Linked DNA regions of Homo sapiens: region 1 is reported to be linked to region 2. The links are microRNA targets in miRTarBase. Many come from high-throughput screens and were not tested one by one. Region 2 holds a microRNA gene; the other region holds the end of a gene's coding sequence. Distances are between the middles of the regions.
What was found. Region 2 holds the annotated microRNA hsa-miR-6779-5p (CUGGGAGGGGCUGGGUUUGGC, at 1,248-1,268, opposite strand). A microRNA usually pairs through its seed, bases 2 to 8, with sites in the 3' UTR of a target mRNA and lowers its output. Matches are read on the target gene's strand: a 7mer-m8 pairs with bases 2 to 8, a 7mer-A1 pairs with bases 2 to 7 and ends in A, and an 8mer does both.

Region 1: miRTarBase lists TMEM11 as a target of hsa-miR-6779-5p. The part of its 3' UTR that is shown has no 7-base or 8-base seed match.

The regions. Positions count from the first base shown.
Region 1 is chr17:21,195,506-21,198,588 of GRCh38, forward strand. It overlaps TMEM11 (transmembrane protein 11), which reads right to left. Exons shown (of 2, transcript NM_003876.3): 2 at 2,449-3,083. The coding sequence ends at 2,819. Among named protein-coding and RNA genes, the nearest start is that of TMEM11, 17 kb to the right of the region's middle.
Region 2 is chr17:38,913,169-38,916,251 of GRCh38, reverse strand. It overlaps MIR6779 (microRNA 6779), which reads right to left and starts at 1,273; the gene lies at 1,210-1,273. LASP1 (LIM and SH3 protein 1) reads right to left here. Exons shown (of 7, transcript NM_006148.4): 5 at 1,777-1,927; 6 at 1,106-1,209.

The sequences.
Region 1 (3,083 bases), 18 Mb from region 2:
GCAGTGGTAAGATCACAGCTCACTGCATTCTCAACCTCTCAGGCTTGAATGATCCTCCCTCCTCAGACTCCTGAGTAGCTGAGACCACATTTGCGTACCACCACATCTGGCTAATTTTTGTCTTTTTTTGTAGAGACAGGTCTTGTTATGTTGCCCAGACTGGTCTTCAACTCTTGGACTCAAGTGTTTAATGGTCCTCCTGCCTCAGCCTCCCAACGTGCTGGGATTACAGGCATGAGCTACTGCACTCAGCCTTCAAATGCTATTTCTTGAGAAGTACTGTCGCATATCACAGATGACCATAAGCAACTTGTCAGCAGCTCTGCCATGACTGATCATCTAGCAAGGACAATGGCAGGAACAGAGAAGTCAGCACTGACAGTGGGAAGGGAGGCACATTTCTTGCTGCCAGCCTCAGGCACACGAAACCCCTGCCTGCAGTCCACACCAGCACCTCATCCCCATCTCCCTGGCCAGGGGCCATGTAACTAAGATGGCATTTCAGAATCTAGGTTAATACATCCAATAAGAATCACTTGGTTCAGTGCAGCTTGGGAAATGGTAGAAGAGCTACCCATTTGCAGCTGGATTCTACCTCGGGGGAGGGCTCCTGCTCAGCTGACTTGAGGTTGCCTCGACTTGTCTGGCTTGTCCAGCTTGTGCCTTCTAGTCAATTCCCCCATGAAATCTAACTTGTTGGCAGAGCACTTCCAGGCCAGGTATGGGGCTCCCTTTCCAAACCTGGGCATTATTAAGAAAAAAAAAAACCAAAAACCTGCCCAGCAGGCTCAGATGCCAGCACTCAGACACCTGAGGGGTCATGGGCAGCTGCATTTCAACTCACACTGCTGTCGAGATGAGGCATGTTTTTACGGGATCAGTTGTGTGGCTAAGGCAGTTCCCTCTTTACCATTATTCCAGGTGCCCAGAGACTGCCACGTAAACAGTGGTGCACACCCAACACCGTCATGCCCCCAGCACTCAACTGAGTGATAAGTTATTTCTAAATCTCTTGGAATTAAATCAAAGTTTCTTAAACTTTTTGTGGGCCGTGGGTCCCTTTTAAAATCCTTAAGAGGTGTGAATCTCCCCTACAAAAAATGGCCCAATCACCCCTCGTGAATCCTTCCCATGCACCCTTTCATTACTCTGTGACATCAGGTCTTCCTGATGGGGACTTTAAAACTAGGTGAGAAACCACTTTGGCTGTCTCTTAAATATTGGCCTGGCCAGGCACGGCAGCTCACGCCTGTAATCCCAACACTTTGGGAGGCCGAACCGGGCAGATCACTTGAGGCCAGGAGTTAGAGACCAGCCTGGCCAGCAAGGCGAAATCCCATCTATACTAAAAATACAAAAAGTATCCAGGTATGGTAGCACACAGCTATAGTCCCAGCTACTCGGGGCTGAGGCAGGAGAATCACTTGTACTCGGGAGGTGGAGGTTGCAGTGAGCTGAGATCACATCACTGCACTCCGTCCTGGGTGACAGCAAGACTCTGTCTCAAAAACAAAACAAAACAAAACAAAAGACTGGCCTTCAGAAGGAGGTGCCATGTGGCTCTTCAGGGATGAATGGGGCTTTAGGAAGGCAGAAGTGAAGACAGGCACCCCAGCCTTTTTGTGGAAGAGAGAATTTCCCATTTACCCAAAGCCTTAGAGCAAGCTTGTCCAATCACCAATCAGCAGCCCATGGGCCTCATGCAGCCCACGATGGCTTTGAATGTGGCCCAACACAAATTTGTAAACTTTCTTGAAACATTATTTTTTTGTGATTTTTTTTTTTTTTTAGCTCATCAGCTGTCGTTAGTGTATTTTATGTGTGGTCCAAGACAATTCTTTTTCCAATGTGGCACAGGGAAGTCAAGATTGGCCACCCCTGCCTTAGAGGAAATGTGGCAGGTGACACAGTCTACCTTCTGGTGTGAGGGAGAAGCACCGGCTTGGCTCCTGTGGAACAGCGAGCACTGAGGCCAGGGGGTGCTTCCAAGATTGCTCCGAGGGCTCTTCTGTCAGCCTAGGGCAATGGGTTAATAAACTCATGGTCCACAGTAGGAAGAGTTTTGGTGCTTCAAAGAAAACACAGGTGTTCAGATCTCTGAAGAGCGATCCTGGAGCCCAGAGTTCCCCACGTGAACTCAAGTGGACACCCAAAGGCCTCCAAGCCTCGTCACCTTATCCTACCATGTTCCTGAACAGCATGGTGGCAGTGATGGCCTTCGGAATGATGAGGCCAAGGTGAGCCAGGAGACTGCTCCTGGGCGGGGTTTGGCCCCAGGACTACCTTGGATCTAGGCTTGTCGTCGCTGTAAGTGGTAACACTGGGCCGCAGCTAGGAGCAGGGCAGGGTGGCTACCATGGCACCTGCTCCTTCCATGTGCAAGCCGCCACCCAGAGCAGATGTGCAGCAGCAGCTGCGGGCAGTCATGGAAAGAGAGAACAGCGGGAGTTGAAATTCTCATAATTTTAATGATCAATAGCTTCTGGTGGGCTCTGGATGGTACAGTTAAACAATAGACTTAAAGACCTCCCCCAAAGCACGTCCACACCCCCTCGGCAGCGTCTGCCTCCATCAGCATTCCACTGCCCAGTCGGACTTCCACAGCCTCAGACCCCCCTCTTGGGTTATGGAAATCCACATCTTAGTGTAATGAGCTGAAAAACCCTGGGTACACCCGTGATCTGTTATTTTTTAAAAATAACAAATACTAAGCCAAACACCTGCCCAGGCTCTGCTGCCTCACAGAGTGTGGCGATCTGAATACTCTGTTGTCTCTTGTGGGCCGGGTGGTTTTGCTTCGCTCCCTGTTCTACTGAAATCATACGGCATAGAGTTCGTAAATCTTCTTTACACAGTACACCAGGGCGGCCAGTGCTATCGTGTTGTGCAGTCTCTTTCTGTGCAGGTCGTCCTTCCGGACCAGCACCACCGGGGTGGAGGAGGTGAGTGTGTGCAGAGGCAGGCGCGACAGTTTATAGGCGTCGTACTCCACTTGGTACTTGCAGCAAGGGTCAAACTGCCAGGAGATCCCATAGAGGGTGCAGCAGGCCAGGCTCAGCACACCAGCGGGCAGGGAAATGTAG
Region 2 (3,083 bases):
TCCATCCCTCACCCTGCTGTCTTTCTCTTCACAGCGTGTCACCGCTGACCTTATGTTATACACCTATTTTCTTATTGTTTTCTTGTTTGTCCCCCTGACTGGAATGTAAGCCCCCAGAGGGCAGAGAGGTGGCTTTATATTCAGAGATGGACCCTACACATCCAGGACAGACCCATTGAGGAGGGAGGGACTGGCTGGGCTGCCTGGAACCTTATACTTCAGACTAACTCTTGCGCCCACAGTGCCCTGGGCAGTCCTAACATCCCTTTGTTTGTGTGCCCAGAGCATCAGACTCCAGCCAGCCATTATCTCAGGCGATTTTATCTCTCTAAGTATCTGTTCTGCTCCTACGTGAGCTACTTTGAATTCCCAGGCACCCAGCCTGGAGGCGCTGAGCCTGCCAGGAGCTTGGTAAGGGTGGCTCAGCGGCACCCATGGGTGGAGTGAGTGGCAGGACTTACAGAGCCGGGACTTCAGCTCTGAGGGCTCAGGAAGCCTGATCTCACCCCATTCCTGCTGGGCTTATTCACTTGCTCTAGGCCTGGCTCAGAGTAGGTGAACCAGACGGACGCTGCCAGGGTCCCCAGCCCAGCAGGGGACACAGAGAAGGTGACCAACACGAAGAGCTCTTTTTAGTTGGAAAAAGTGCTCTGAAGGCAGCCAGCGGAGTCGAGTGATGCAAAGCATCAGGGTGATGCGCTTTACACGACATGGCTGGGGAGGCCCCTCAGAGGCAGGGGCAGCCTGAGAGCTGAAGGATGTGGGGGCCATCCTCATGAAGCGAGGAGAGCAGCGCCCAGTGCTGGAAGGCCCCATGCAGAAAGTTGCCTTGTGTGTTCCCAGGTAGCTGGGGTAAGGAAACCCCACCCAAAGCAGGGTGAGCAACCTGCCCATGGTACACCAGGGCTGGAACGCAGGGCCCCAGTCCCAGCCAGCCTCTGCCCACTACGCCAACCAATTTCCTCTCTGCTCACAAGGCTGAGATCCTTATCATCACACACAACAGAGGGTGGGTGCAAAGGTCAGGAGAATCCATGAGCTGTGTCCAAGCCTTCCCGAAGGACCCCCTGCCTCTGGCCTCTCCCCTCCGGCCAGGGTTACTCACCCCGCCACCACCTGGGGCGCTGCGCTGTATGGAGACTGGGGCTGCAGGCTCCTTGTAGCCACCATAGGACTGGGCCACCGGCTGCTGCTGGGGCTGCTGGTAAACTGGAAGATGGGAGGAGACAGGGCTTGGAAACTGTCCTGCCAAACCCAGCCCCTCCCAGAGCTCCCGAGAAGTCCATACCATGCACTTCCACCCCGCCCCCAACCTGGCTCAAGCCCCACAGCTCAAAGGCTGATGTCCACGTGTGCACATTTGCCTGTGTGTTGTATCCCACGCAGGGGCTCTGAGCCCCATGACCTGGGGGCCTCTCCTTTCAATCCTCTTGGCCCAGTACAGGCCTGACCCTGGTGCTCACGTCCTCATTCTGGATGAGAATGGAACTTGGGGTCTTGGGAAGCAGTCTTTTCCTCGCCTGCATGCGTGCGTGCATGTGTGTGTGTGTGTGTGTGTGTGTGTGTGTGTGTGTCTGTCTCTCGCCGACTTCCTCCCCACCCCAGCTGGCCCGGCCTCAGGTCCTCTGGTCCCCTCTTGCACACAAGAGGCATAATCGCCTGTTGATTAAGAGCAAGGCTCCGGAAGGTGTATCTGTCTGTCTGTCTTCTCCTGGCTTCCTCCCCACCCCACTGGCCTCGCCTCAGGTCATCTGCACCAACAGGACCTGCACTCACCCGGGGCACTGGTCGGGATGTGGTGAGGCTGCTGCTGCTCCAGGGGCCGCCGGTAGCTGCTGCCGTCCTGTGAATCCCGACGCTCTGGCTCCATGCCCTCGCCCCCGCTAGGGCCCATGCGGCTCTTCTCAAACTCCTCATGGTATTTTATCTGCAAGGTCAGAAGGCACTAGGTGAAGGGTCCCACTGCAAACCACCCAGTTCCTTCCCGTGACCCTCAAGATCCCAGGATGGGAGAGACTACCCAAGAGCTTTGGGTACAGAAAGCCAGGTCTCGCTCTGGAAGCACCAGCTGTGTGTCCTTGGACAAGCTACCTAATCTTGCCAAGCCTCAGTTTTCACCTCTGCAAAATGAGACACCAGTCTCCCTCAGACACTGTTGGAGAATGCAATGAAATGACCGATGTAAAAGGACCATGAGAACTGAAGAATCAGACCAAAGTGAGTGGTCCCTTTTCTTTTTTTTTTTTTTTCGAGACGGAGTTTGGCTCTGTCGCCCAGGCTGGAGTGCAATGGTACGATCTCAGCTCACCGCAACCTCCACCTCCAGGGTTCAAGTGATTCTCCTGCCTCAGCCTCCTGGGCGGCTGGGATTACAGGCGCCTGCCACTACGCCCAGCTAATTTTTTGTATTTTAATAGAGACAGGGTTTCATCATGTTGACCAGGCTGGTCTCAAACTCCTGACCTCAGGTGATCCACCCGCCTCGGCCTCCCAAAGTGCTGGGATTACAGGCGTGAGCCACCGTGACCGGCCAAGTGGTCACTTTTATATGCCTGCGGCAGGGGCGGGGCTGCTCTGTTTCCGCCTGGGTCCACAGTAACCACAGCAGCAGCCCGTTTCCTGAGCTCTTACTGCGCCAGGGCCGTGCTAGGTGTTTTATGTCACAGGCTCATGTGAGCTCGTCAGCGCCCCTGAGGGGTAGATTGCAGACCCCATGTAACAGGCAAGAAGGAAGCGAAGGGATTGATAAGTGAAGTGAGTGGCCCAAGATCACAGATTCCAGAGCCTTGCTCTTCATCAACAGGCGATTCCACCTCTTGTGTGCAAGATGTCGTGGGTACTACAGCCTAGGATGCTCCGCTGAGAATCCCAGCCTTTAGGGATAAAAACTGCCAGACCCTCCCTGAGGGCGGGACATTGTCTTGGATGGGCTCCTTCTCGGGTCAGGTTCCAAAAATGAGCAGAGAGGCCCAAAGAAGTCATATCCCTCAGGACCACCCCACTAGGCGGGCATGTGAGGCTCCAAGCCTTCAAGTCAGTCTCTTGCCCCCACAGTGCTCTACTGGCTACAGAGTCCCCCACCT